Linked DNA regions of Homo sapiens: region 1 is linked to region 2. Evidence: fine-mapped expression QTL. A gene starts in region 2. The other region holds a variant in brackets. All regions are shown on one strand. Distances are from middle to middle.

Region 1 (15,938 bases), 49 kb before region 2:
ATTGGCAAACCACTGTTCCTTGAGGCCTCAGCACTATGTGCTTCTTGCATACTCAGTTATTGACATGACTGTACAACGTTTGTGTTGGTATCTCAAAACTATATTTGGCAAGACATGGTCTGGAGATCCTTTGTGAACACTTTGTAAAAGGGTGTGCTTTGTGGAAGTGAAAAAGTACCTGATTGAAGCACTCTATGTGCTAGCAGATGTTTATCAGTTTTTGGAAGCGAATGGTTGTCATGTCTTAGATGTGTTCTTATGCTTAAGAGGATATGCCAAATTATGTGAGGGATCCTGTTTCTTATTTTACTTTAATTTTATTTTTACTGAAGTGAAGAGTTAATGAAGTATGGTCTAAGAAACAATTAAGAGGGGCTCTGATTTCATGGAAATCCATGTTAAAGCTGAAAAACACCACAAAGTGTTTTAATGCTTTGACTTAGGGGCTGGCAAATTATGGTCTCTGGGCTAAGTTTAGCCCAGTGTCTGTTTCTGTAAATAAAATTTTATTGGAAAAAGCCACACTCATTTTTTTTTCCATCTATGGCTGCTTTCACCCAGCAAAGGCAGAGTTTAGTAGCTGGCGCAGAGACTGTATAGCCCACAAAGCCTAAAATACTTACTAAGTGGCCTTTTACAGAAAAGTTCACCCACCCCTGCTTTAAATCCTACGGGATCAAATGTGACTTGCATTGTCTGAGCTGTTAGTAATTTGTGGGCACAGCTGACAAAATGGTCACTATGATCAGTTGTTTTCTTGATCATACACCCTCTTACCTTCTGCCCCAGATAGATTTTTTTTTTTTTTTTTTTTGGACAGAGTCTCACTCTGTTGCCCAGGCTGGAGTGCAGTGGCATGATCTCGGCTCACTGCGATCTCCGCCGCCTCCAGGTTCAAGCAATTCTCCTGCCTCAGCCTCCTGAGTAGCTGGGATTACAGGCACATGCCACCATGCCCGGCTAAATTTTGTATTTTTAGTAGAGACGGGGTTTCGCCATATTGGCAAGGCTGGTCTCAAACTCTTGACCTCAGGTGATCCGCCCACCTTGGCCTCCCAAAGTGCTGGGATTACAGGCATGAGCCACCGTGCCCCGCCCCAGATAGATTTTTAAAATTCAAAATCATAAAGAAAATTACAGAGCTGGCCTATCTTTTTGAAGCAGCTGGGTGAGTTTCAGGCCAAGAGATAAAGACATTGACAGCAGAGTGTGAAGGAAAATGCCCCTTGCCACGATGCCGTGTGGGTTGAGAACCTTAAGGTGTTGGTACCAGAGAAATGGAAGATTGGCCAGAAAAAAGACAGTTGGTCAGGAAACACGTGCCTTGCTCCCAGAATAGGAGAATAAGTTGGGCTCTGACAAAAACCTCGGAGAACAAAACAGGAGACAAGAGGCTCTGAAAGTGAGGCATGATGTGGGTGAGCTTCAAAACAAAGGGCGATGAGCAGACAACTGAGACTCTGTGAATGGAGAGACCCGCAGATGGATCAGGGCAATTGGTGGAAACTGAATTCAACAGCTGTGTTCCGAGTGGAGAAATTAGGTCAGGAAAATGGTATGAAAACTTTCCAGGGAAGCCCAGTCAGGAGTCAAAGGGCAATAAGGAGCTTAGGTTTGAAGTAGAACTTAGGGTAGACCTGGGGTAGATAGAAGCAGAATCTATTGGCAGGAGGGTGGTGGGGAGGGCAGCAGAGATAGCTGGCTTGAGCCTCACATTTAGACTTTAATCTTATCTCCATATGAGCCTACATATAAAGTTACTTAGCAACACCAGCAAGTTTGAAAGAAAACAATGAAATTTAAACTTCAAAAAAATTTCTTGTATCCCTACTTTTTAATATATTTGTGTATAGTATTTGAAGACCCACAAAAAAATCCAAGTGACCAGTTACATAGCATAAACTCTGGAGCCAGACTGCTTTTGCTAATATCTTGATTCTGCCATTTATTAGTTGTTTGACCTTGGGCAAGTTACTTAACCTCTCAATGCCCTAACTCACTCACTTATTAAATGAAGATAATAATCATACCACTTCATAGAGTTGTGAGGACTAATTGAGCTTACATCTGTAAAGTGCTTAGAATTGTTCCTGATACACATTGAGTGCTTTGGAGTTTATTAAATATAGTGACCTCTCTCTCAACCTGAGATGCCTGGCTAAAAAATCAGCTACAAACAAATCATGTAGTAACCCATCTCCAATGGACTATGTAAATTCTATTAAAGAATTTGTGTCCTTTAAATAAATGGCTGTTTAGTGTAGTGGAGGGATATTCTTGTTTTTAGGATTTTTTTTTTCCTTTGAACAGATTGTATGTCTGTGTGGAAGCTTCATTTCATTGATCTCAATTCCTGCCTTGCAAAAGAACTCCCAGGCTGGAGTGCAGTGGCACAATCTTGGCTCACTGCAATCTCCGCCACCTTCCAGGTTCAAGCAATTCTCCTACCTCAGCCTACTGAGTAGCTGGGATTACAGGCAGGTGCCACCATGCCCGGCTAATTTTTGTATTTTTAGTAGAGACGGGGTTTCACCATATTGGCCAGGCTGGTCTCGAACTTTTGACCTCAGGTGATCCTCCCACCTTGGCGGATAACACTGAGTAGAAAAGAAAGTGAAGTAATTGGTAAAGGTGAAGGAAACAACTCAACTCATACAGGGTTTTTTTTTAATTGTTGTAAAATATACATAATATAAAATTACTATCTTAATGATTTTTAAATGTACAATTCAGTAGTTTAAGTATATTCACATTCTTGTGCAACCAATCTCCAGAAGTCTTTTCATCTTGTAAAACTGAAACTCTATATTCTTTTTTTTTTTTTTTTTTTCTTGAGACAGAGTCTCGCTGTGTCGCCCAGGCTGGAGTGCAATGGTGCAATCTTGGCTCACTGCAACCTCCACCTCCTGGGTCCTAGCACTTCTCTTGCCTCACCCTCCTGAGTAGCTGGGGTTACAGGTGCCCACACCACGCCCGGCTAATTTTTGCATATTTAGTAGAGATGGAGTTTCGCCATGTTGCCCAGGCTGCTCTTCTTGAACTCCTGATCTCGGCGATCCACCTGCCTCAGCTTCCCGAAGTGCCGGGATTATAGGCGTGAGCCACCACCATGCCAGACCCTGAAACTTTATATTCATTAAACAGCTCCCCATTTACCCCTCCCCCTAGCCCCTGGTAAGGACCATTTTACTTCCTTTTTATGATTTTGGCTACTCTAGGTATCTCATAAGTGGACTCATACAGTATTTGTGTTTTTGTGACTGACTTATTTCACCTTGCAAAATGTCCTCAAGCTTCATTCATATTGTAGCAAGTGTCAGGATTTTCTCCCTTTTAAAGGCTAAATAATATTCCACTGTATGTATATACCCCATTTTGTTATCCGTTCATCCATCAATGGATTCTTGAGTTGCTTCCTTCTTTTCGCTCTTGTGAATATGCTGCTATGAACATGGGTATGCAACAGTCAGGTGTCCAACAGTCAGGTGGTCGCCTTGCCCCCTTGCTCCCAGAACAGGAGAATAAGTTGGGCTCTGAACCAGGTAGACCTGGATTACAGCCCTGGTTTCACCTCTTACAGGTTATGCAATCTTGGGCAAGTTACTTCTCTGAGCTAGTTTCATTGTGTAATAGTGATATTTAAATAGAGTTGTTTTAGGAGTTAAAAGAGACTTCATGTGAAGCCATTGAACCATGTTTGATACACAGTAAAAATTCAGTAAATTTATGTCTCTTTTATTCTCAAATGTGCCATCTCTTCTTCTCTGATCAGTTATGCATAGCTCCTTCCTTTATTTTCACTTTATTACAAGGAGAGCCACAAACATATACATGAGGTCTGAAGTTGGCTTGCACTGTCAACACTAAAAAAATAAATTTCCTCCCAATAGAGGATACCAGTAGAGTTGGTCCAACCTTGCTTAACTCAACAAATTTTACTTAGAATTTTAGGGCTCTTTTGAAAGAGCACTGACATATTCAAGAAGTCTCATGTCCTATCTTAAAGGTGTCTTTCTTGAAAGACAACAATTGTGTTTTTTTTTCAAAAGCAGTTTCAGGTATCTGAATTCAATTAAGCACAAACTTTGAGGGAGTTCAAATTTGACCCACATATACTCTTTAATGCCTAACTCAATTGGGCCCACTTGTTTGACCTTTATCATAGTAAAGGAAACCTGACCTTTACATGTTCATATTGGCAGCAAGCATTTTATTTCATTTCCCTTGTGGGGATGGTGTCATTGAGATAAATGCCTTTTTGTGGTACATCCTAAGGAATATATAGTATAGCGGCTATACCCAGTAATGATCTGCTTACTTAAACTCAATTTAGTTGTTTAAATATTTAAAAATCAACAAAAATATTTTTAAAATATTGGAAAGACTACCGAAAGAATTTTTAATTTTAGATCTTGCCAAAACACTATAAAGAAAAAAGGGGCTAGATTTGCTCAGCTCAAAAAATTGTTTAATAATTATTTTGTCGTGAGATAAAAAATTAAGAGAATAGCTTGAACTTTGATTAAGAAAAATAATGCACAATCAAAAAATTTTGGTAAAGATGACATAAATATTGAATGGATGAGTACAAATGATTCTTGTTCTTAAAAATCTCCCTTTGGCTTGGGGAAAGGCCCATCCAGCTTGCTACGACCACCTCCAACACCCATACGTGCCACACAGGGGCCTGAGGGCTGGCATGCCATGGCTACAGCCAACACTGACATTATGCATGCCACTCAGAAACCTGGAGACCTGCCCACCTGCCTAGCCAATTATTGCCACTGCTGGTACCTGAGCAAACCACTTGGAGGCCAAAGATTGGCTTTCATTATCACCAGTGCCCATGTATGCCACCCGGGGGCCCAAGGACTGGCATGCCTGGCCCAGCACTATTACCGCTGGTATCCAAGGACTGGCCCACTTGGTGTCCTTTTCCCAGCAAAGCCTCGCCACAGCCTTCACTAACAACCTAAGCCAATGAGGAACTCATATACACCACTGTGCTGATTACAAAGAAATTATATGGAGACTACACTACTACACTCACCCAGAATCAAAGCCAAAGCACCTCACTCAACCAACACTATAGATACATCTATAGGAAAAAGTGTTTTCTTATAAAGTCAATCCATAAAATTAGAAAAAGCAACTGTTACACCAGATGCACAGATAGCAACAGAAGTACAAAAGAGAATCATGAAAAGGCAAGAAAACATGACATCTCCAAAGGAATACAATAATTCCCTAGCAACAGATTCCACCAGAAAGAAAATATATGAAACAACTGAAAAAATCAAAATAATAATATTAAAGAAACTCAGTGAGATACAAGAGAACACAGATGAACAATGCGAATAAATCAAGAAATCAATTCACAATCTGAGAGAGACAGATACCATAAAAAACAAACAGAAATCCTAGAAATGAAAATTAAATGAACAAAATAAAAATATATCTGGGGAGATAACATGATCACTTCTGAGCTCTGGGAGTGCCCTGTTTCTCACTTAATGTGACCTACTCCTCATTCAGCTGAACAAATTGGAGCCTAAGAAGATAAATTGACTTACTTTAGTTAAAGGAAACAACCATTTTGTGTGTGTGGTGGTGGTACAAATACTCTATAAATATCCATATCTTGTTGAATTGGAGATAGTTCATACGCTGGTGACTTCAGAAGTACTTGCCCTTTCCAAGATCACCAGTGATCACATTGTGTCTAAGTCCAACGAATGCTTTTGGGTGATATTTTGTTAGTGATCTCTGGACCGTTTGTCACTGGAGAGTCTTTTTCATTTAAAACTTCTGGATCCTTGGGTAGCACCACATCCTCCTGGACTTTTTCCATATTTTTCCAGCCCGTCTCTCTGTCTCTTTTTAAGGCTCTATCACCTTATTTATTTTCTGTTTTGGTGCTTCCTAAGGTTCTGCCCATACTTTCTGATCTTACAATCCTCCACACACTCTTTCTAAACACTCCAATCCATTGCCATGACTTTACTTTCTATCTGTAAGTTGATAATTCTTAAATGTGTATTCAAGCCCAGATCTCTCACCTGAATTCCAAGCCCTCATTCTCTGCTTGGCTGTTCCATGTGAGCCTTAAACTCAGTAAACAAAAAACTGAAATTGTCATCTTTTCTCCCCATCCTCAAATTACACTCCCCAAATCTCTTCCTCCTTAATTCCTTATTTGCTTGGCACCACGAGGTTCACCTTTGATTTATCCCTCATTCTGTTGAACATTTTTTTAACGTCCTTCATTTCCCCCTCACTATCCCCACTATTAGGATAAAGGGCCATTCTTTCCAGCCTAGATCATCAACCTGCAAAAATCTAATTGACAGTCTTGCTTTTGTTCTTGCCTACTCCTAATCACTATCCATGTAAGACCCAGGGGGAATCTTACTGAGGGAAAAATCCTAATACTACCACTTTCCTGCAAAATAAATATTCTTTGAGCACTTCCCATCACCTGAAGGATCAAGTCCAAACTCCTGCACATGGCACAAGGCCTTTTTTTTTATTTTTTATTTTATTTTTGAGATGGAGATTCACTCCTGTTGCCCAGGCTGGAGTGCAATGGTACAATCTCAGCTCACTGCAACCTCTGCCTCCTGGGTTCAAGTGATTCTCCTGCCTCAGCCTCCCAAGTAGCTGGGATTACAGGCACGTGACATCACACCCGGCTATTTTTTTTATTTTTAGTAGAGGCAGGGTTTCACCATGTTGGCCAGGCTAGTCTTGAACTCCTGACTTCAGGTGATCCATCCGCCTTGGCCTCCCAAAGTGCTGAGATTACAGGCATGAGCCACCGCGCCCAGCCAAGGCCTTTTATAATCTACAGCTAGTCTTTCCATTTCTTTGAGTATTGTAGAATTTTTTCCCGCTCTCCCCTTACATCTGTTTCTTAGCATTTCAAAATACCCTCCATTCTTTGAACTTGCCATGTTCTCTTTTGCCTTTGTTTAAAACCGTGGATGCTTTTCTCTCTGGTGTGTTCCCACTCATTTTTCAAATCCTGGCTCAGATGTATTCTCCTTCTATGGTCCTTCTCCCTCCTCAGTCTGATTGATATCCTCTGTGGTGCCCTTGGCATCCTGTGCTCATCTCATCCCAGTACATCTATTCTGTGGGAATTCAAACATTGCTGGTGACTCTTTGGAGGGTAGCTTGATAATAACTAGTAAAGTCAAATATGTGTATACTCTTTGGCCAGTAAATTGACAATTCTGGTTCATACTTCAAAGAAACCATAGCAAATGTACATAGAAGAAATGTATAAAAATAATTATAGCTGTGTGTAATAGCAAAAAGAATGAAACAACCTGAATGTTCAACAAGAAAAGAGAAGAAATGGTGGCAAAGTCATCCCCTGGAATACTATACAGCAGTTAAAATGAATCAACTAGAGTTGCCACTATCAACATGGGTATACATAAAACACATAGTGTTCAGCAAGAAAAACAAGTTGCAGAATAATACAATTTGATGCCATTTATAAAATTAAAATCATGCAAAACTTTATAGGTTTGAAAATACTTGGCAAATGTATTAAGAAATGCAGGGGTATAAGCACTAAATTCAGAATAAGAGTTCCTTCTAGGAAAGGAAGAAGAAAGAATAATGTTTTATATAAAATAAACTGGAATCTTCCCTCCATATCTGTGGGTTCTGCATCTATGGATTCAACTAACTATGGATTGAAATACTGGGGAAAGAAAGTTCACAAAGTTCCAAAAAGCAAAGCTTGAACTTCCCACACACTGAATACTATGTCAAATCCACACAAATGAAGTGATGTGTAAGCACTGTGTTTGGTATTATAAGTAATCTAGAGATTACTTAAAGTATCGGGGGAATGTGTGTAGTTTATACGCAAATATTAAACCATTTTATATAAAGGACTTGTGCATTTGCAGATCTTGGTATCTGTGTGGGGTCCTGGAACTAATCCCCCTTGGATAACAACAGATGACTGTACAATAGAGACTTAATTACTTTGCCAAACAAATGATACCAATTAACCACACTTCTAGTAGAACAGAAGTAGCACAGAAAAAGAATAGGAATAAATTCTCAAAATTGGAATGGAAATAGTAAAAAGTAAAAATGTGTTTTTGGAAGGGATAAGGATCAGGGCAAACTCAATGCCTTAAGTAATTATGGCTGGGTACATAAACAATTTGTGGTTTGGCTGATTCACAAAGACCTGTCTTGGCTCTCTCTGCTATTAGAAAAAGTGTTGAAAACACTGTTTATTCTGATTTCCTGGGTATGCCTTACTTTAATGGGTTCAGGTAAACAAGTTCACTGGCATTTTCAAGGGGAGCTATAATACCAAGGCAGCATGTGATGAAATTCCACCATGTCTCTTTGTTAATTCATTCCTTTTCTACCTGACCTTTAAGTATTTTAGTTTGTCATAACTCCAACCTCTTAATACTTTATGTTCCTTTCCCAAGTGATTGCATCTATTTCCACATTTAAGTCCCAAGTCCAGATGATAGCTCCTC[T/G]GAGTGATCTTAAATACCCAACTGCTCACTCAACATCCCACTGGATGTATCATGGGCAACTCAGAGTCAAAGTATAATATGAATTCATGCTTTCCATGCCCCATCATCAAGTGTACTCCTGCTGTGTTTTCCTCCCCAGGGTACAGTGTGACTATCCAGCCAACCTGCTGGAAATCTAGGAGTCATTTTTGACACCCCCTCTCCCTTATCTTTTATATCCAATGTATCACTAGGTTCTGTTGATTCTATCCTGTAGACATATCCCAAATGCATTGACTTTTATACAAATTCATTGCTACTCTTATTTTTTTCTGGCCTTTGCATTCTCGCTGTCTTCTCTGTATTTATCAGCTCCACCTCCTCCATCTATGTTTAATTAGCTTCCATTGCATGAAGCCACTGTCCATACTACGTCTAGGGTGAACCCTTCAAAATGCAAATCTGAATGAGGTACCCTTGCCTAAAATATTTCCTTACTTCTTATAGCTCTTGGAGCCCATCGCAGAATCCCTCTCAAGCTCTTTCCATCTGGGAAGCTTCATCTCATTGCAGTCTTCTCCTCTTCTCACTCTTCTCAAATTCAGCTTCCCGCCACATGGCCTCCCTTTAGCTCTTCAAATGTATCTGTCTCCTTCCCACTTCAGGGCTTTACTACAAGCTGCTCTCTCTGCCTGAAAAAACTGACTCTCAGCCACCACTTCCCAATCCCTCCACCTAAGACATGTTTCTTCATGCATTAGCTCTCAGCTCAAACATTACTTTCTCAAGAAAGGCTATCATGACCACTTTGGCAGGGATTATAGGTTCTGTAATAGCACAACTCTGCACTTGTTGATAGCATTTAACAAAAAAGTAATTAAAGATTCACCTAATTGTCTGCTTGCTACATCAGACCATGAGTATGAAAGGAGTAGCACAGTGCTTGCTGTTCCCTGCTGTGTCCCCAGCACCTGCCCAGTGCACCTCAAGTAGCACCTGAATAAAAGGCTGGGCTTCTGAAATGGCTACAGAGAAGGAGGAAGGTTCAGTTTTTACTCCCAGAAGCTACCAGGTACTACTTAATATTTGGAAACCAGTTCTTATTAGCATTTCAGAAAATGAGTCTGGGATAATTGTTTTCAATGGTTTTTAAACTTATGTGGACATTAATATGTAGATACATCTTCATTCTGTGCTTGAGTTTTCCTAAGCTAGAAGTAATTTCCCATGAAAAGCGATCAAATCCCTGTGCATGCTAGATAAGTTCAGTTTCAGAGGCTGTGGATTTCATGCTTGAGAATACCTCTTTAGAACTCTTCTGACCCCTCAAGAAAATCCTTAGCCAAATATTAGTCATGGGCTTGTGCATGAGAAGGAAAAAGGACTGATTTTTCCCTTGAATGGTGTGAATGTTATGTCTTTGGTATAGAAGGAGAATGAATTTTGGATTCAGATAGGTGTCAGATTCTCAATTCTATAATTTTGGCTAAGTTTTTAAAGCCACCCCAAGCATCATTTTCTTCATTTATATGATTGAAATCGTGCGATGATTTACAGAGATACCATAGATTTGCCGAGATAGCATTTAACAAGCTTTGAGCACAATGCTTGTTGCTGATGGAGGCTTAATGAATTCTAGTTCTTTTCACTTTTCTATCAGTAAATGTAAACTAGTCAGTTGTTTTGAATTGGAGCTCAGGGCCCCAGACAATTGAAATTAGAGTTTTGACACTCTAAAACCTCCTCTTCTTACAGTGTTTTCTTAGAAATTATTTTGATAGATTTAGATTGAATGTAAGATTGTATGACCATGGTACATGTCAATTAAGTATACCTTGATGCATCTAGACAAAACCAATAGTAGAGCAAGAAAAAAAGAGGAAATATCATATGTAGGTAATTGGTAGCAATATACTACCTCATTGTAAGGAGGGATTGAAGCAAAGCCTGTCCTACCAGGGCTGGATGCCATTTGCTTATGACCTTTCTAGAATATGTCAGTAGATGTGTTCTAAGGAGAAGCTGGAAGAAGGACCAACGTGTATTTCCTTGGATTAGAGAATGGTTCATCCATCCCTCAGTCTATTCATTGTCATAAGTATCTGAGTGTTTAGGGCATATCAGGCACTGTCCCAGCAGCAAAAGTCCAACAACAAACAAGAGGCAGCTCTGCTCTGATGGAGGGAAGGAGGACAGAATAAGAGATGTAGGTTGATTATCGCTTATCTCAAATGCATGGGACCAGAAGTGTTTCAGGTTTCAGATTTTTGTGATTTGGGGACATTTGCATCATACTTACTGATTCAGCATCCTTAATCTGAAAATCCAAAACCTGAAATGCTCCAATGAGTATTTTATTTGAGCATCATACTGGTACTTGAAAAGTTTTATATTTTGCAGCATTTTGGATTTTCAGATAAGGGACATTCAACCTTTAATAAGCAAATATATATGACATCAGGTGTGAAAAGTGAAACAACAAAAAACAATAAGGGGATAGAGAACGTGTGTTTGTGTGCAAGTGTGTGTGTGTGTGTGTGTGTGGTGCACTCTTATATAATGTGGTTTGCAAAAGTCTCTGGAAGAGATAGTGGACTGAATGTCGCAAGGAAGCAAGCCTTGCAGGTCCCCGAGGGCTGAGTTTCCAAGCAGACAAGGCAGCAAGGACAGCAAGCATGAAGGTCCTAAGCTGCATGCCTGGTGTATCTGAGGAATGAGGAGGGAGCTGGTGCAGGGGAGCAGGGGGAGTAAGGTGAGTGGAGGAGGTGAGGTCAGAGATGTCAGGGGGGCCAGTACACAGGGATAAGTATACAATGGATGAGATTTTGGCTTTGAATCCAAGAGAGATGGGAAGCTATGGGGGAGTTTCAACCATAATCTTATTTGCCTGTTAACTGGCTTACTCTGGCAGCCATTGCAGAACAGCCTGCTGGGACGAAAATAGATTTCCCAGGGGTATGGGCAGAAACAGAAAGACTGATTAGGAGGCTGTTGCCAAAGCTAGATGAGAAGCATGATCCCCTCAGTACTGGCTGCTAAGTTGTTAAAAAAAAATTATATATATATATATATATATATATATATATATATATATATATATATATATATATATATGGTATTCTTTCTCAGAAAATGAATTCTTTCTAATGTCTACTGACTTCTGCATTAAACCAAGTCTGCTTCTCTTTGCTTATCCTTTATTTCTGTATATACTACCCCTCAAATGCAAAGGCTTTGATTAGAATAATAATAATGGGTATGATGAAGAATAGTTGGATTTTGGATCTACTTCAATAATGGAGCTGAGCGGATTTATTGGTGGACTACAAGAAGGGTATGATAGAAAGAGGAACCCAGGATAGCACTTAAGAATTGGGCCTCAGCAACTGGAAGGGTGGAAGGGAAGACTAAAAGAGAGGCACATGCTGGGAACACTGTGGGGTCTTTTTCAGTCTCTAAGAATCTTCTGTTCCAACATAGTTTTAAGAAGAAATCCTACCTTAGGCTTATCGGCCACCTACATCCTATGGTTTAGTTGACTGCTAAAGGCTGGTTCTGTAGGATATAAGAAAATTGCCTAGCATGAAGGGTACTCTGATATAGAAATTGGGAGGAGTGTAAAACACAAATTCCACCTATCTGACTGCTTAGCCAAGCGCTAGCCCTAGTTATTAAGGAACTTTTCTGACTGACTGTCTCCCTAGAGGCTCAAGGCTAGAGTAACAGCTGTAGGTGATTCCCAACTTGGCAAAGGTTGCAATCACCTTTAAGCCTCCAAAGTTGAATCTGGCACTTTTCCAAGATTTGGTTAGTGAAAGCATAGAGCTGCTAGAGGGAAGGACTCAAAGAAGGTCACAGCTAGGAGAGACCTTCGCTAGAGTATAAATTAAAATTTAGAAAGAGACAAGGTCTGGAGAGATTACATGACTTCTGCAAGAGGCATGAGGAGTAGCAGAGACAGGGTTAGAACCTGGGTCTCTAACTCCCAAGCCAGTGCTGTTTTTGCTGTGCAATGCTAAAGGGAATATGAAAGTCACAAGTAGTCACTGACTTGGAACAAATCATCTTTTACTCTCAGGAGACTAGAGATTGTTGTAGTCTTCACCACACACTACTTTTAATTCATATTCATGAATCCCATAAGATTTACCCTTAGGCAAAAACTGGAGTTTGGCTGCGTTTCTTGGTCTAAACAAACCAAGAATGGCAATAATAATCCTTGGTTTCCTCTGGGGAGAGATTATTACTTTCACATTCAGGAAGTGATGAATTGCAACTATAATGGTTGGAAAAGGACAGTGGTGTAATGAGCAGATGTTACTACCATGAATGTGGGGATAATTACAATTCTTCTATGGATAACTACCATAAAAATAAGTTTGCAATATGTCCGTTTTCTTGCCTTATCAAACTGGCAGTTGAAGGCAAAATGGCTTGATTTGAATTTCATCCATGTTTTTCACAATGCCGGAGGAGCTGCTAAGGGGTAGTGAAAGATCCAGAGTAGACTGCTGGAGAAAGAAAGGTGATGCAAGCAGTCAGCTGCTGAAAGACTGACACTTGGTTGTTTCCATTGAAATGTTTTAAAAATCCAGGTGGAAGCTTGTGAACAAGATTTTCTCTGATTACTACAGCATCATCACACCACATGTCAAAAATAGTTATTGCTCACACAAACTGTAGTCATGCTTTTAGTTTCACTCTCTCTCTCTCTTTGCAAGTTCATTGAACTTAGACCTTACTAAGATTTAGGGATCCATTCAATTCTGTACCAGCTGTTTAGTAGCTGATGCTTTTTTTTTTAATAGGGAAAAATTTCTCACATCTCTGTAGATTTCTTACCCTGGGATATTAGTCAGGGTTCCTCAGAGAAATAAAACCAATAGGATAGACAGATGATAGATAGATAGACAGATAGATAGATAGACAGATAGATATATGGAAGACGAAATTTATTATAGGAATTGCCTTATGTGATTATGGGGGCCAAGAATCCCCACAATAATATAGATATATATGGGGAAATTTATTATAGGAATTGGCCTATGTGATTATAGAGGTTGAGAAGACCCACAGTCTGTCATATGCAAGGCGCAGAACCAGGAAAGCTGGTAGTATAATTCCTTCCAAGTCGAAAGGCCTGAGAAAAAAGGGAGCTGGTGGTGTAAGTCCCAGTCTGAGTCTGAAGGCCTGAGAACCAGGATTATATATGTCCAAAGGCAGAGGAACTTGGATGTCTCAGTTCCAACAAAGAAAAAAAGCAAATTCACCCTTCTTCCATATTTACGTTCCATTTACATATTGGATTACCTCCACCCACCTTAGTGAGTGCAATCTTCTTTACTCAGTTTGCCTATTCAAATGCTAATCTCTTCCAGAAACACCCTCACAGACACACCGGGAAATAATGTTTTGCCAGCAATCTGGGTATTCCTTAGCTCAGTCAAGTTGACACATAAAATCAACCATCACAATTAACTCCTTGTAAGCTTGGCACCCATATGAATCTCCTTAAACCATTCCTAACCTTCAAATAAAGACAAAAACCAGGCCGTAATGCCACCTACCAGGATACGAGGATCCTGCGTACACAAGGAATACTAATCCTTTCCTCAGAAGAGAAGGTAAAGTCTTTCAGTGACATTTTCTCTTCTGATATCCTACAGGTTACACTTGAATACTATGTACAAGTTACATACACACACACACACACACACACACACACACACACATATATCCTACAAGTTATGCTTGAATACTATGATGTAAAATTACATATGTATATGTATGTATATATAAAATTACATATATATACACATATATCCTACAAGTTACACTTTAATACTATGATGTAAAAATAACAATAGTTAAATACTGATATAAAGTTAATACATATCATGTTATGTGATAAGGAAATAAGATTAGAAATAAAGGAAATATGTTTGCTTAATATATATCTATGTACACCCAAATATATTCATAACAAGATGAGGAGGAAACACTCATGAAATTACAATTCTCATTTCTGTAACTGGTCATGTAGTTGTAACTGGTATTTATAACTACCTTCTGCTACTACCCATTCTGCATTTTCTTTGCCTTCAGCAAGGACCTCAGCTCATTGTGGCTCTTTACCTGTGGGGTGACCGAAAACTTAATTCCTGACCAGTCTGGGTCATTTGTAATCCTGCCTGGATTGGGTAGTTGTAGTTTCTCCTTGACGTTAATCACAGGGCATGGTAATACTAAAAGATGCCCTAAGGGATCTTCTGTATTTCAGACTTCTCTTCCTTCTATTGCGGAGTAGTAGTCCTATTTACCCTTGGTAGTCAGGATCAATCACCCCAGCCAACATCATAACTCCCTTCTTGGCTGTTGACTCAGAGGCATGAGGAGCCCAAAGTGGCAGTCTTAACTTCTAGTTTAATGGAAGTATTGTTGTATCTCCTGGTGGAAGTATTCTTACCTCTGGGACTAAGACGTCTAAGCCAACAGAGCATAAAGTCTAATGAACAGGAAGCATACATTTTGTTTGTGAGTTACTATGTGTAAATAGGAAATGGTGCCTCTCCCATCTCCACCCCTTGCTACCTGGACCTGTGACTTCTGGCTCTGAGAGAAAGAGCACCATATATTGGATGCTGATTCAGAGCATATACAGAGGGCCTTGTACAAGCCTTGCAAGGTATTGCCATCTAACTGGTATTATAACTGAGTGTTCAAAAGGCCATTCCACCATCCTATCAAGCCAGCAGCTTCGGGATGGTGTGGAATGTGGCAAGACCAGTGAATTCCATGAGCATGAGATCACTGCTGCACTTTTTGTGTGTTCTAGAATAAAATATTTTAAAAATTTCTTCCTGGCTCATTGCTATGAGTTCTTCTGTCTGTGGTTACTAAGACTAATCCCCAAGGAATCAGGAAGAGTCAATCCTTCCTTAGAAGCTGAATGCTGAATCTCTGATTATTCAAGACATTGGACTATTTTTTTAGGAAGTGATGTGACTCTGTTATTTTTCTCCTTGATCTGACAGTATCTGTGGGAAGAGCACAATGAGTTGCATAAAATAACTGACATTAAATTTCAGTGATTTTCTTCTGTGTTATATCTAGCTATACTTTATTCTTTCTCTTCTTCACATTTGTCTGTTGTGCTAATTGACTTAGCTCCTACTTTCTGCTCTGAAATTCACAAAACTACAGTTAAGTATGACACATTTTCTCAATGCTTCTATTTTATCCTAAAATATTGGTGGGGGGGAGACATTGGATTTTTACATTCCTAAAAGATTTTGTTACACACATGTAGAGGGAAAAATCAGTGTAATTCTGTTTTCTGATGGACGTGTTATAGGCCAAATAGAAAAAAAATCACTTAGATTTTTAACTTTTATTTTATGTTCAGGGGTACATGTGCAGGTTTGTTATATAGGTAAATTG
Region 2 (15,938 bases):
AGTAACCAAAATAGCATGGTATTGGCATAAAAACCGACACATGAACAAGTGGATAGGGATAGAGAATGTGGAAACAAATCCATATGTCTACAATGAACTCTTCGGCAAAGGTGCCAAACATATACATTGGGAATAGGACCGTCTGTTCAATAAATGGTGCTGGGAAAACTGGATGTCCATATGCAGAAGATTGAAACTGGACCCCTATCTCTTGCTATATGCCAAAATCAAATCAAAATGGATGAAATACTTGAATCTAAGACTTCAAACCGTGAAACTGCCCACCAAATCATAGGCAACCAAAGCAAAAATGGACAAACTGGCTCACATCAAGTTAAAAAGCTTGCGTACATAAAGGAAACAATCAGCCAAGTGAAGAGGCAACCTACAGAATGAGAGAAAATATTTGCAAACTATCCATCTGACAAGAGATTAATAATCAGAATATATAAGGAGCTGAAACAACTCAATAGGAAAAAATATAATAATCAGATTGAAAAATGGGCAAGAGATCTGAATAGACATTTCTCAAAAGAAGACATACAAATGGCTAACATTTTATGAAAAGGTGCTCAGCATTGTTGATCATCAAAGAAATGCAAATCAAAATTACAATGAGGTATTACCCCTCTCCAGTTAAAATGGCTTTTATCCAAAACACAGGCAATAAAAAATGCTGGTGAGGGTGTGGAAAAAATGGAACCCTCATACACTTTTGGTGGGAATGTAAATTAGTACAACCACTATGGAGAACAGTCTGGAGGGTCTTCAAAAACTAAACATAGAGCTACCATATGATCCAGCAATCCCACTACTAGGTGTGTACCCAAAAGAAGGGAAATCAGTATATCAAAGAGATATCTGCACTCCCATGTTTATTGCAGCACTATTTACAATAGCCGAGATTTGGAAGCAACCTAAGTGTCCGTGAACAGATGAATGGATAAAGAAAATGTGGTATATATACATAATGGAGTACTATTCAGCCATAGAAAAGAATGAGATTCTGTCATTTACAACAACGTGGATGTAATTGGAGGTCATTATGTTAACTGAAATAAGCTAGGCACAGAAAGACACACTTAACATGTTCTCACTTATTTTGGGGAGCTAAGAATTAAAACAATTGATCTCATGAAGATAGAGAGTAGAAAAATGGTTACCAGAGGCTGGGAAGGATTGTTGGTGATAGGTGAGAGGGAAGTGGGGATGGCTATGGGTACTAAAAATAGTTACAAAGAATGAATAAGACCTAGTATTTGATAGCACAACAGGGTGACTATAGTCAATAATTATTTAATTATACATGTAAAAATAAAACTATAATTGAATTGTTTATAACACAAAGGATAAATGCTTGAGGTGATAAATACTGCATTTACCCTTATGTGATTATTATGTATTGCATGCCTGTGTCAAAATATCTCATGTATCCCATAGATACACCTACTATGTACCCACAAAAATTAAAAAAATTTTAAAAGCTTGACATTGACATCACACACACAAAAATCTACAGACCACTACTGCATGTGAATATAGACACACATATTCTAAACAAAATTTTAGCAACATGAATACAATATATAAAAAGAATCATAAATTATGACCAAGCAGGGTTTATCCCAAGTATGTACTTTTTGTTTATCACTCAAATATCAATCATCTATTTCATTATATTAATGAACTAAAAAAGAAAAACCATATGATCATCTCAATATTGCCAAAGAAATATTTGAAAAAATTTGACATCCATTCCTGATAAAAATTCTCAGTAAACTAGAAATAGAAGGGAACCTTCTGAATTATAAAAACCATCTGCAAAAAGATTCACAGCTAATATCAGATTAACTTAATTATGAAAATCAGAATGATTTCTAAAGGGCACAGGACAAGAATGTCTGCTCTCAACACTTCAACACTGTATTGGAAATTATAGACAGTTCAATAACACAAGAAAAATAAAAGCATTCAAATGGAAAGAAAAAGGTAAAACAGTATTTATTAAAATGACATGATTATTTATTTAGAAAATCTGCATGGAATGCATGAAAAACTACTAGAGGTAATAAATGAAGTTAACAAGGTTGCAGATATAAGCCCAATATACAAAAATCAATTGTATTTCTATGTTCCTCCAGTAAAAAAATTGGTCATTGAAATAAAAAAATACCATTTTACAACAGCATTAAAATATAAGTAATGCTAAGAGAGAAATCTGACAGGATGTTTACAAGGCCTGTAACATGGAAAACTATAAAACATTGCTGAGAGAAATTAAAGAAGACACAGATGAGGGGGAGAAATACCTAGTTGTGTTTTAGCACTCAATTGCTAAAATGTCAGTTCTCCCCAGATTGATCCATAGATTCAACTGAATTCCTGTCAAAATTTATTCCCGCCTTTTTGGTAGAAATTGATGAGCTAATTCTAAAATTCATGTGGATATACAAAAGTCAGCTAGGTGCAGTGGTTCATGACTATAATCCCGGCACTTTGGGAGGCCAAGGCCGGAGGATCACTTGAGCTCAGGAGTTCTGGTCCAGCTGTGGCAACATAGCGAGACCCGATTGCTACTAAAAAAAAAAAAAAAAAAAAAAAAATAGCTGGGTATGGCTGGCGGTGTGTGCCTATAGTCCCAGCTACTCAGGAGGCTGAGGTGGGAGAATCACTTGAACCTAGGAGGTCAAGGCTGCAGTGAGCCATGATTACACTGCTGCACTCCAGCCTCAGTAACAGAGCTGAGATTGTGTCTAAAAAAAAAAAGAGAGAGAGAGAGAGGGAATAGGTGGGCAAGCATTATCTGCTTTTAAGACTTATTATAAAGCTTCAGTTTTCGAGACAGGAGGTTGTTGGCATTTAGATAGACAAATAGAGAAATGGGACATAATAGAGACTCCAGAAAAAAACCCACATGTATATGCACAATTGATTTTTGATGAGGGTGCAAAATTAATTCAGTGGGGAAAGGATAGTGTTTTCAGGAAATGATATTAGCCCAGTTGGGTGTCTGTATGTAAAAAAAAAAAAAAAAAAAGAAAGAAAAAAGAACTTGGATTCGGATTCATACCATGCACTGTATGCAAAAATCAACTCAGGATGGCTCACAGATTTAAATATAAAACTTAGAATATTTTCATGCCTTTGGATTTGGCAAAGGATTTTTAGCTATGACACCAAAAGTAAAATCTATAACAAAAAAGTAGGACAAATCAGACATTATCTAAATTAAGAACTGTGCACCTCAAAAGAGACTGCTGAAGGAATAAAAAACAAGCCATGATAGGGAGGAAATATTTGCAAAGTATATATCTGATTTAAAAAAAACCTAAGTTCAGAGTATGTAAAGGGCTCACAAAACTCTATTATAAAGAAACAAACAAACTCCTCCCTCAAAAGTGGAAAAAAGACTTTTGAACAGACACCTTACTAAAAAAAAATAAATAAGCGAATGGCAAAAAAGACCTGAAAACATGTTTATCGTCATTTGCCATTAGGAAAATGCAAATTAACCCCAAATCTGGCACTACATACCTGTAAGAATGGCAAAAATTAAAATGTCTGACATGCAAATGTTGAAGACATGGAGGAACTGGAACCTCCATGTACTATAGGTGTGAAGATAGAATTGCACAGCCACTTTGGAAATGGGTTTGGTAGTTTCTTAAAAATTTAAACATACACCCGATTAGGTAGTCCACTCTACTTGGAATATTGGATATTTATCCAAGACAAATAAAATCCATCCATCCATCCAAAGACATATATACAAATGTTCATTGCAGCCTTATTTGTAAGAGCCCAAACTGGCAATAGCCCAAATGTCCATAAGTGAATCTAATTATAACCATGATGAGTGAAAGAAGCTGGTCAGTAATAGAGTACATACTGCATGATTTCATTTATGTAAAATTCTAGAAAATGCAGTGAAGTGCATTGTACTAGAAAGCAGATCAGTGGTTGTGAGGCATCATGTGGTAGGCACCGAGAGGGAAAAGGGTGAGATTGAAAAGGGACACAAGAATTCTCTAGGAAGTGAGGGATATGTTTATTGTCATGATTACGGTGAGGATTTCCCCGGTAAACACATGTGCCAAGACAAGTGTTAAAACTCACCAAATTATGTACAGCAGTTCCTGGAATAAAATTGTTTCATAACTGGTGCCACTATGTAAAGTTTGACGTTCTTTCCATGTCTGCGTGGGTTTTCTCTGGGTCCTCATGTTTCCTCCCACATCTCAAAGATGTGCACATTAGTTGAATTTGCACGGTCCTAGGTATGTTCCCAGGACCACCAGACAACTACTCGTTCAACATGCTGCTGCGTACTTGCATGCCCCAGGCTGTCAGCCTCCCTGATGCAGTACTCTAACTTTCAGGATCCTCCTCTGGCATATCCTCCTGTTCAGAGTTCCTTCTCTAGTTTACTAACTTATGTTTCTCACTCAGCTCTTGACTCCATCAATTCTTACATTATTTGAAGCTTAAGTTAAAAAAAATTCCCTTCACCTGCACAAGTTCAGCTAGGTACTCAGCATCTCCATGAAGAAAGCAGAATGTAGATAAAACAAGGAAAGCAAATTTCACAGCTTAGAGATATACAACTTAGGTCTTAAAGAAGCTTGTTTCTAGATGAATAGATCCTTCACACTGTTTTATAAGTACAAGTTGCTAATTAACTCAAGGTTATGAAGCCAAAAATTTAGAGGTCAAGATGCCTTAGACAAATTGAAGAATAACCTGCAAATATCACTTAGGTGTTTAAGGGGCAGTACATCTCTGTGCTATAAAAAGAATTGTGGAAGAGAACTTCATGCTCTGGCCAAATGTACCTCCACTGGAGCAGGACACTTGTCCAATTGGATCATGGGTCTAATTCAGGAAAGTGATTAAAGAAAAAAGATTTGGGATGAAAACATGGAACACTGGGTTTCCCATTTCAAATAAGTCATATTAAAATTATTTTTATTAGCATCCCTTAGAAAAACCACAGCATAGCTTCAAATATTAATTGCATACATGCAAGCCTTTTAAAAATCTCCTAGCATAATACTTTACAGAGACTAAAAATATGGACAAATAGGTTAAATGACTGCACAAAGTTGACTTCCAAGATTTGAAAGATGTATGAGTTTTAATAGAAGTCTCATTTGAAATAATGAAATTAACGTTGAGCCCTTAAAAAAATCAAGCATGAATTGGCCAGGCGTGGTGGCGGGTGCCTGTAGTCCCAGCTACTCGGGAGGCTGAGGCAGGAGAATGGCGTGAACCTGCGAGGCAAAGCTTGCAGTGAGCCGAGATCACGCCACTGCACTCCAGCCTGGGCGACAGAGCGAGACTCTGTCTCAAAAAAAAAAAAAAAAAAAATCAAACATGACATGACTGAAAACTATGACACTTATTTGAGCAGTGGTCTAGATGTCTTCTAATCTCGTGGATTTCACTGACTTCCCCAAGGAGAAAGTATTCTTAAAAAAATGCCATACAATCATTGTACCAAAATTCTATCAGTCTACGGTTGCATAGAAAAGGAAAAAGAACAGGTTCCCAGATGCCCACTTTATAGCTTGTGACACATGTTTTTTGACACAACTTCTGTGTGTGGGGTTTGTTTGTTTTACCTCACCTTGCTCCAGAAACAAATTAAAACAACTTACAAAATCACATAAATTAAGACTCCAAGTAAAATAAGCAAGAAATAAGGGTGGGGACGAAAAATAAAGCCAAGAATGATGTCAAAGAATGCACATCACAAAGACCTATACACTTAATATGGGTGGGGGATGTATTTGGCTCTAATTTTCTACCAGTCAACACAGAAAGAGAAACCTGGTTACAATGTCAAAAAATAAATACAGTTGCTCTGGAAAAATAGCCACAACTTTTCATATTTGACACAGCAGTCAGACGTTTTCTCCAGGGTTGTTATTTTTTAGGAGGTACTATATGATGTAGTAAGCAATGTCTAGCAACACTCTTACTATGTACAATAGGGGGTTTCATGGCTGATTCTTATAATAGACTTCAGTGTAGGTATTACACAAAATGCACTATACTAAAGCATGATTTAATAAAATATTTTAACGCGGGCCAATACTATTTTCAAGAACTGTGAAAGATCTGAGATTTTTATCCTATCTGCAAGCTAACATGCAGTTCATAGAGGCTGGCAGGAGACACAAAACACCTGGGTCAAAGACAAAGGAAAGGACAGTTTATTACAGCAATAGCAGTAGCCTGAATATCAGCATTTGCACTAGTTCTAGGAGCCCAAATTCTCACAGGACAACACAAAGAGGTACAGGTGATATGTACACATGCCATGGGTTGTTTTACAGAAGAGGAATGACAAGCTTAGAGAACTTAAATATTTTATAATGGGAAGTGATCATGTATTCACATTGCCCCAGAGGGAGATGTTACCTTTATTATATGGAACAGAACACAAATTTCTATCTTCCAAGGATATTTTATGTGCAAATATTCTTTACAAGATATTCTGGAACATAGGGAGTTAGTGCCTCTGCTCATAGGATGTGCGGAAACATTAGTTACCCTTGCAAAATTATCTCCCAACAACTGCACATTCTAGGTCATACTCAAGTGTTCTCTGACATAATCTAGAACTAACCCTTAGGTTATTGGGAGGAATTGATGAATTCTGTTTCATTTGACACTTACTCATCATGTACTTATTGTATTCTTATATTCTAGGCACTAGAGACAGTAGCAAAAGAGGCACAGTTGCTTTCTGTAGTGTTACTCCTCCCTAGTCTGAGGAGAGCCCTAATACTTTCAACATCCTCACTGAATGTTCAAGTGTCCTACTAGCTAAGATAATGCAACCATTTTTTATTTCTGACACAATAATTAGAGATTGTGCTTCATTTAATTAGCCTACAGTCAGTTGCAAAACTGCAAATAATGATTGCTAAGGTGGATTTGACTTTGCCTGCTGGCCATGCAGAGGCCAATTCCTGAATTCCTGCTGGCCAAGCAGAGGTCAATTCCTAACTCTTGCACCAGCCCCTCATAAATGTTTTGAAGAACCAGCCTTCTTTACAATATTTCTGCTGGGTTTGTTCCCCTCAGAAAACCTGTCATTTCCTGCTAACACAGTGGTCTCACTGGCTTAATGTGATGGCAATGACATATAGGAGCAGAACCAGCAGTGCCAGCTGGATAAATGTCCTAACCCCGATTGAGGGAACTGCTTATTCAAGTAAAAAATCAGAGATGAAAAAGACCTGTTAAATAAGCCAGTGCCTCCTGTAGTCACTGCCAGAGCATTCCTATGGTGAGAGCTTAGACCCAGCCAACTCTAAATGACTTTAACAAGGTGCCTTCTCACACTTTATTTGGAAGACGGGGCTGTCTCTTCCATTTTTTCTTCTTTTTTCTTTTTGATAAGTTTTCTAACTAGAATTTCATTTGACCAGTGTTATTTAATTTTTCTCTTACTGTTTTTGGTTCAGCTACAGCACCCCAATGAGGTAAGCGATTTTCAAAGAGTCAGTATAAATATACCAACAAGGTTTAAAGTGCTTTATTAACCCAGCCATTCCACCCATGCGTCTATATATTTTGACCAAAGTGATGTAGGGGGAAAGGATACACATGTGGACTTCAGAGGTAAATATGCCCAGGTTAGAATTATAGTTCTACTTAACTGGGGGCTTATCATTTTCATTATTATTGTTTCCAGTGACTGCCATTTAGTAAATGTTTCCTGTGTGTCAGGCTCTATGGCAACTACTTTCGAAAAACTGCTAGCAAATGTAAGAAATTGATACTGTCATCTTTATTTTAGAATCTAAAATGTAGTAATTAAGACTGGAAGCACTATAGTTAAATGGGCTGCTTAAAATGCCAACACTGTGACCTTGGACTTTCACTTGACCTCTCTGTGCCCAGTTTATCTATCTGTAAAATGGGGATGATGACAATGCCTGCCTCATAGACCGTTTTGAGGAATAAATGTCTTAACATGTGTAAACTGATTCGATCAGTGCCTAACACGGAGCAAGCATTTAAATGTCATCAATATTGATAATATAGAGATGAAGTTTGCTCAAGGACAATTCATTAGTAAGTGGCATCCGTTATTAAGCAGTAGAATATACTAGCATTGTCAGGACACTTAACCTTTTTTCCTCAGCTTTTCTTAATGGCAAAATGGGGATAATGCCATATCTCCTGCAGAGGCACTGGGAAGATTAAAATACAGTAAAGTAGGTAAAGACTCGATTACAGAACTCAGTCCACAGTTGAGGCTCACATAGTAATAGTGCTCTCTCTACGTCTCTACATCTACATCTGTTGAATATATGTGTATACACATATATATTATAACGTAATGTATAGCTTTGTAGCCAAAGACTTACTCTTAAATGTTTCTCATAATACAGGAACTACAGAATGGCTCAAAATATATCTTTATGAGTTTACTCCCATTTAAAAGAATTGGGTTGGTTTACTGGATAATTAAAAAGTTTCCTTCTTAATAAGGTTTTATTTTATATTTTTAACATTTTGATAGCTTTTAGTACATTGTTTCTGGATTCTTTAAAATAGTTTATCAAATGTTTCAAAACTGCCTAAATACTTCTTCTTTCACAAATACAGATCTGCCATAATTTGAATTTTTATATCACAGAAGGAAGAGACACAGTTACAACTTAGCAGAAAGAAAGAAATGTGATGATATGTTTTTGCTGTTGTGCTTTTTTTTTTTTTTTTTTGGTGTGTGTGGGAAAGGGTGTGATGTCATCTTGTCTCCACCCCCTGTGAGTAAGCCCACGGCACAGCTAAGTGCAGCCGCCCGCCTCTGTCACTGGGAGACAGTCCACTTAAATGCAGCTCCAGGGTTGCGAGGCACCCACCAGCATCATTCCCCATGCGAGGTGGCAAATGCAACATGCTCTCCAGTTTGGGGTGTCTACTTCTCTGTGGAAGTATTACACTAGCCCTGGGAAATGCACAGAAATTGCCAAAAGGCAAGTAGCCTGATGTTTTATGTTTTAAAAATAATATTAAGATATAGATGTTTTTAAATGTTGATTTTAAATATGATCTGCTTTACCATACGGGGGGAATAGAGTTATTCTGCAGAGATTCAAAGTTCAAATGTGTGAAGGGGTCTCTTAAACTTTTACTTTCCCCTCCTGTTATTTACTTTTCAATTACAGCTCTTTATTGCAAAAATGAAAACAAACTTATTACATTGAGCAGCTGTTCATCAGAGCTTGAACTGTATACTTTCTAACTATAGTGCTTGTGTATTGAATCATATTGTGTAAATGGATATTATAGTCTGTTAGAAAGAGTTGTTTGGTGTTTTTATCCTCCTCCCCAGAGACTGAATCAGTACTAGCTTAAGATTCAAAAGAAGCTGGTTCTGAAACCTTGAATCTTTGGTGTGAACCTCAAACATACCTGTTGACCAGGAAGCTGAGGGAGTCTAGGCAGGTCAGACCAAAGTACGGTCATGTGCTGATTTGCAGACACGTCCCTCCAGTGGAGTTTGGAAGAGGGCTTGAGCTGTTGGACAGGACACTCCCCCCTTTCTTGGCTAAATTGCTCTCATTTTAGTGTTGGTATTTTGTTTACAAATGTTATCAGAAGAAAATTAAAATTTCTAAATTTTGACCCTAAAAACAACCCTTTGAGCCCATCAGAAACCAAAACAAGAGGCTGTTGCCTCTCTCCTGTCTCTGAACATAAATGTTGCATGTACTTTTGTTTCTCTGCAGAGGCACTTCTCTAAGCCAACTCTAGGTCTGTGAAGGCTTTTTATGGTTGCAGACTGCTGTAGTCAGCAGGATTGTGAAAAACAGGCTGGAATTTACCATACAGTCATGATGGAAAACATCAGAAGTAATGCAGAGCTGCAGGCTTGTCAAGAACCTGGTGTGCCTAAAGTCAGAAAGAAAGGTTGCTAGTGTCAGAATATCCAAAAGATCATCCCTAGGTCCTCTCTCTGGGTAGTCTGCCCCAGGATCATCTTGTCCCAAGTGAAAACTGTTCTTTCCTCGGTGGGTAAAGTGAAACTTGAATCCAGCATGTGAAGGCTGAAGCGGTTGGCTAGTTGATATTTCACACGATAATGTGAACAGCAATAAAAAAGACTAAGTAAACTTTCTCAACTCTGATCAAATAATTAAAGAAAAATAAAAAACAAGCACTCTTAGATCTTTTTCTACCAAGAGTTTTGCTCCTTGATCACAATAAAACTGTGATTTAAATAAATCAATTATGAGCCACAAGCATTCAGAGTTAATTGTACCTACTAATGGAATATTTAACAGTAACATATCATTTGAGAAGAGTCTGGGGGTTTTCTCAGTCTTAATACCTACAGAAGACTTTTATTTTACTTTTTATTCATTGCATAGGGATGATATAGGTGCAACTTTGTTACTGCAAACTTCTGGACAATCCCAGTGCTTTAATTATCGTGTTGCAATCACTAGACACAAATCTCTTGACACAATTTTTCTTTATTTATAATGGGAAAGAAAAAAAAACATAGTTGTCGAAAATGGCCACAAAACTTTTGTTGTTTATTTAAAAAATATTTGTAGTTTTGGTAATTTGGAAAAAAACATCAAATTATAATAATGATAAAAGAAATGGCAAGTCTTGTTTTTAATATTATGTTTTTTCTTTATTGGAAAGCTATTGAGGACCTTTTAGCTGAAGTCATCTTTTTCAAACTGTGCTCCAGGCATAGGTGCACTGTTTGTCCTACAATGGGTAGAGTTTGGGGTGAGGGTGGAAGGGCAGCTGATTCCTGTCAATAACTTGTGGAGTCTTTAAGGGGGGAATCACAATAAGTGTTAGCAGTTTGCACATTCTCAATAAAGAAACCTGTACAACTTTTTGTTTCTCACACTCATTTGACTAAGAATCCTCTTTTCCATAGAAGATCTATAATATCTTAACAGGGGTTTGTCTGTCACAGGACACATTTGGGGAAATGTTGAGTTAAAAAAGAAGAAAAAAGAGTAAAAGTTTTTACTTTTGTTCTTCCTTCTACTTTAGAGTTGGTTAAATACTATTTGTGACTTAAGAAGTGGTTAGAATTCTGGAGCTAGAAAAGATATTCATGATCACTTAGTCTAGTGATTCCCAGACCTTTGGATTTATGGACCAACAAAAATACACAAATATTTTAACATCAGGGTCCTGTTATAGAGAGCATACTTGAATTTTGCTATGTGAGGATGCTCAAAGGGAACAGGGGAGAATGTCTAGTGTTCATAAAAGTAAACAATTTTAACAGATTTATACAATAAATAAATTTAATTTCATAAATAAGTCCATTGTTATTTTTCTCATTTTCCCACAGACTAATGAAAAATTGATCACAGGCCAATATTTGGAAACCACTGACCTAACATAACCATTTATTTTACAAATGAAGATACCCCAAAGCAGGGCAGATTCAGTAACTTTCCCATGTTAATGGTGGAGCCAGGACTTGATACCTAGCTTCTCATTCAAAATCCATGTTCTAACCTGCCTCCTGCCAGATAGGCAGGTTCCTCTGACCCCAGCCTTAGGAATGACATTCTGTAGTGTACATGTGAATGCTACCTATTCCTTGAATAAAAGAGTTTCTTGTAAATTTCTTTAACAGTATTTTAATTTTAACTTTTCTTCCTAAGAACATATCTACATTTTTATGTACATATTTTATATATATATTATATATACAAAATTATATATATATAACCATATATAGTTATTTATAAGAAGTCAGTTGTTATATGTGGTGTGCCTATTTGCATACCTAGTCACATACTTTGTTATAAAAAGTAAGTTATTAGAAGATTTTTGCTTAGTTTTTAAAAGCTTGGAGACTATTAATGGAGCTTTTCTCCTCCCCACCACTAAATGACTATAGTTTTGTCAAATTATTTATTTTTGTTAGCCTCAGTTTTCTCATTGGTAAAATGGGACTAATGATAACTATCTCATAGTATTTTAGGATTAAATGAGATAAGAGACACAAGTCTGGCACATAACAGATTTTCAATAAATCCTTATTGGGTCATAGAAAAGGGGATCAATGTTGAAAAACATGCACACCGAATAACACATGATCTTGTATTCAAAATGTAAGACAAATCTCTTGTAAGGTAGGAGATGAGGTGGTGTGAACTTGGCAGAAAGATGGGGTAAAGGACTGCAGTGTTGTTCTACGTGGCAACAAGGGAGGCTTCTACCGCATTCTAGCCTGACCATTGTCTGCCCATATGGCCAACATTACCCTGTGGAAAGCTGCACCTTTGCTCTAAGATCAGCTTTTCCACAGGGATTTGTAAGATGTCATAGACTCTTCAGGTGAGCTCCTGTTAAGCTTGTTTCTCAGGAGGTGAATTAGACCATACTAGAGAAGAATTTTCACATTGTTTTATACCTTTGGAAGCCCCTGTGCTCCAGCTACCTCTCAGAATCTTTATTCTTGGCACCATTGGCCTTTTTTCTTTTCCTGGCAAACAGGCTAAAATAAAAACCAGTGAGAACAATATGTAATGAAAGGAGCCAACAAAATCTTATAGTGGGAGAGCAGGCCCTTGACACACCTCTGCATGGAAACTCCAGTATACAGAAGATTGTAATTAGCCCAAAGGCAATGGCTATTATTTTTAAGCAAGTGTGAGAAAAACCACAGAGGAACCTCCAAGATACAAGTGTAATCTGATGGCCAGAGGGCATGAGGATCTTGGGTGTGACTCTTGGGATATGGCAGAGGGAAGAGGCAGCTGGCTCTTTGCTTTGGGTTCTTACCTAACAGAGTAGAAATCTCTGACTTTAGGAACAAAACACAGAGCAGATGATAATCATAACAGTAACTGCCATAGCTATTAATAACTATTACCATTATTATTATCACAGGTAACATTCTTTGAGTATATCCTGCATGTGGTAATTTAGTGCTTCATATTTTAATGTGGAAAACCTAATTAAATTATTGAAGCTCCTCCATTGTCTTTGTCTGTTTCGTGCTTCTGTGACAAAATACCTGAGACTAGGTAATTTGCAAAGAACAGAAGTTTATTTTTCACGGTTCTGGAAGCTGGGAAGTCCATGATCAAAGTGCTGGCATCTGGTGAGGGCCTTCTTGCTGCATCCTCACATGGTGGAAGGCAGAAAGGCAAGAAAAGGATAAATTTCCTCCATAAGACTTTTTATAAGGGCACCCAATCCCATTCACAGGGAAGGAGTCCTCATGGCCTAATCACCTCTTAAAGGTCTCAGCTCCTAATACTATCGCACTGGCAACACCTGAATTTTGGAGGGAACACATTCAGACTATAGTACCTATGAAGCAGGTAAACCTATTATTCCCATTTTACAGAGCATAAAATTGTGCCTCAGAGTGTTTAAGTAATTTACTCCAAGTAATATAGCTAGAAAGTGGCAAATGACTATACCTTTAATTTTGATGCAATATTAGTTCCCTGCTCTATGTAAAGATACATTAATTCATTCAAGTAACAAATTATATTGGATGTATACACAGAGCACTGAGGCTGGGGAGACAAAGCTTGGCACTTGTCTTCAGGGAGCTGACCAGCTTGTGGAGAAGATAAGGGACTGGTGTGGAAAGGGATAATTACAATAGAGAGGGGTCATCCTTCAGTGTGGGTGAAGCACAAAGCATTTTGAGAAAAAAAGGATCCAATCTGGATGGGAGGTATGAAGAATTATGAGAGAATAAGAAACCCAAATAGAGGTCTTGAGTACAAACACAAGTTGAGACAAGGAGAAGGATTGCTGAGAGGTGAGGGGCTTTCTCAACAAAGGTAGCTGCTGGCCCAGAGCCCAGGCAACCCCAGGGGCCAAAGCTCAGTGAGTGTTAAAGTACTGAGAGGGAAGCCTAGACTGAAAAAAACCATACAAGATGTAACTGTGCTCTCCTTGTCTCTATCTGGCCTGACTCCTCATGATTGATTACAAAGAGGAAATAAAATGTTGTCTTTGGAGAGGAAGGCTCTTACACCTTGCTCTGTCAACTTTCCAGCTGCTCACCTGGCAGCTGGCTCTCCATGGAGCCCTTCCAACCTCACTTTGACAAAACAAGAATGTGTCACTCCAACAGCTCAGTCCACTTCTCCAAGAGGTGGTTGATGCTTATGGGAGGCTGCAGAGGATCTCGTCCATCTTAAGTTATGGAACACAGGATACTGGTGAGGAGTGCAAAGCCTACTTGGTGTGGTTCTGCTTTTATTTGAGTAACATATATTTATGTATTGCTGGGACTGTATTAAACAGTACGTTAGAAAAAAATGGTTCTGCTGCTAAAAAGAAGCTTAAAAACCACCAAGCAAGAAATTATTTTAGCATCTTTTACAGTTCTAAATTTTCTTGACAGTTTTATTGATGTGTTTGTCTATCAATTATTAAAGATTATCAGTAGTCCTTAATAATTCTTAAAAGTATACTAATAATCATCATGTTACATATCAATGGTGTTTAATGCTGTGTTTATGTAAATTATCTCATTTTATCCTCACACCTGTGAAATATTATTATCTCCATTTCACAGATGAAGAACTAAGCTTAAAGAGTATGTTAGCTATCTATTGCTGCATAAAAATTTTCCACAATAATCTTTAATTGACTGTTAATAATCCTTAATAATCAATAGTCAACACATCAAGCCCAGATTATTAAGCATCTACTAGGTAAACTGAATGAGATACAGCCCCTGCTATAAAAGAACCTTATATTACAAAGGTAAAAACTGACCAAATATAATTTGTCCTGATGCTAAATTTAGAACCTGAGGTTTAAAAAAATAAAGTTTTCTTGTGTTAATTATACATTCACTAGTTTAGTTTTATAGACTGCTATATTGGGCTATAAGATACTGTTAAGAATTTTTACTATCTTCCCCTGTCTCCCTTCAAGAAAGAGAGGGGACACAGGGGAACACCTGAAAATAGAAGAATTCATCAATATAATATTATAGCAAAGACAGTTAAAATGTTATAGGCTAATGTGAGTTTACAGAAGGCTTTTTAAAGACATAAGTGAGGTGTTTAATGAAGGGAATGCCATTCAGGAGATGGGACCAATCACTCTATCTGGATCACCACCCTCAGAAAAAATTTGCCTTTTGCTGTTCCCTGATTGCAATTTATAACAGTAGGTATAAACAAGACAATATTGAAAGTAAATAGGTGAATTTAATAAAATTGATCTCAGAATAAACATAAAATTAAGAAATAGGATACTCTAATGTGATTATCTAGATTATCTAGTTATCTAGAGAGATTACTAGTCAAATAAGAATACATTTGTTAAAATGACCACCAAAAAGTAAAAATAAATAGTATCAGCTAAAGAAGGAACATGCTAAACATAATATAGAAAAACAATAATTGATATACATATATTCAATTAAAATAACATTTTAAAAGATGATAACCATATTACTGTGTATCAGGCATGATATTTAATGCTAAGTGTTTATAAACATGTGAAATATATATTATTATTAGCTCCATTTCACAGATAAGAAATTAAGTTTAAAGAGTATATTAGTGTAATCCCAGCACTTTGGAAGGCCGAGGTGAGCAGATTACTTGAGGTCAAGAGTTCAAGACCAGCCTAGTCAACACGGTGAAACCCCATCTCCACTAAAAATACAAAAATTAGCCAGGTGTAATGACAGGTACCTGTAATCCCAGCTACTCAGAAGGTTAAGGCATGAGAATTACTTGAGCCCAGGAGGCGGAGGTTGCAGTGAGCTGAGATTGTGCCACTGCACTCCAACATGTGCAACAGAGCAAGACTCCATTTCAAAAAAAAAAGAGTATGTTAGTTATCTTTTTCTTATAACAAATGTCCACAAAATTATCAACACACATTTATTATTTCACAGTTGCTGTGAGTTAGGAGTCTGAGCCTGGTTTAGCTGGGCA

The links.
Region 1: its variant is fine-mapped to the expression of ABI3BP in fibroblasts (GTEx, PIP above 0.99).

The regions. Positions count from the first base shown.
Region 1 is chr3:101,035,809-101,051,746 of GRCh38, reverse strand. No RefSeq gene overlaps it. Among named protein-coding and RNA genes, the nearest start is that of ABI3BP, 50 kb to the right of the region's middle. The variant T/G (reference allele first, on the strand shown) is at 8,520.
Region 2 is chr3:100,986,364-101,002,301 of GRCh38, reverse strand. ABI3BP (ABI family member 3 binding protein) reads left to right here and starts at 8,881. Exons shown (of 68, transcript NM_001375547.2): 1 at 8,881-8,996. The coding sequence starts at 8,918.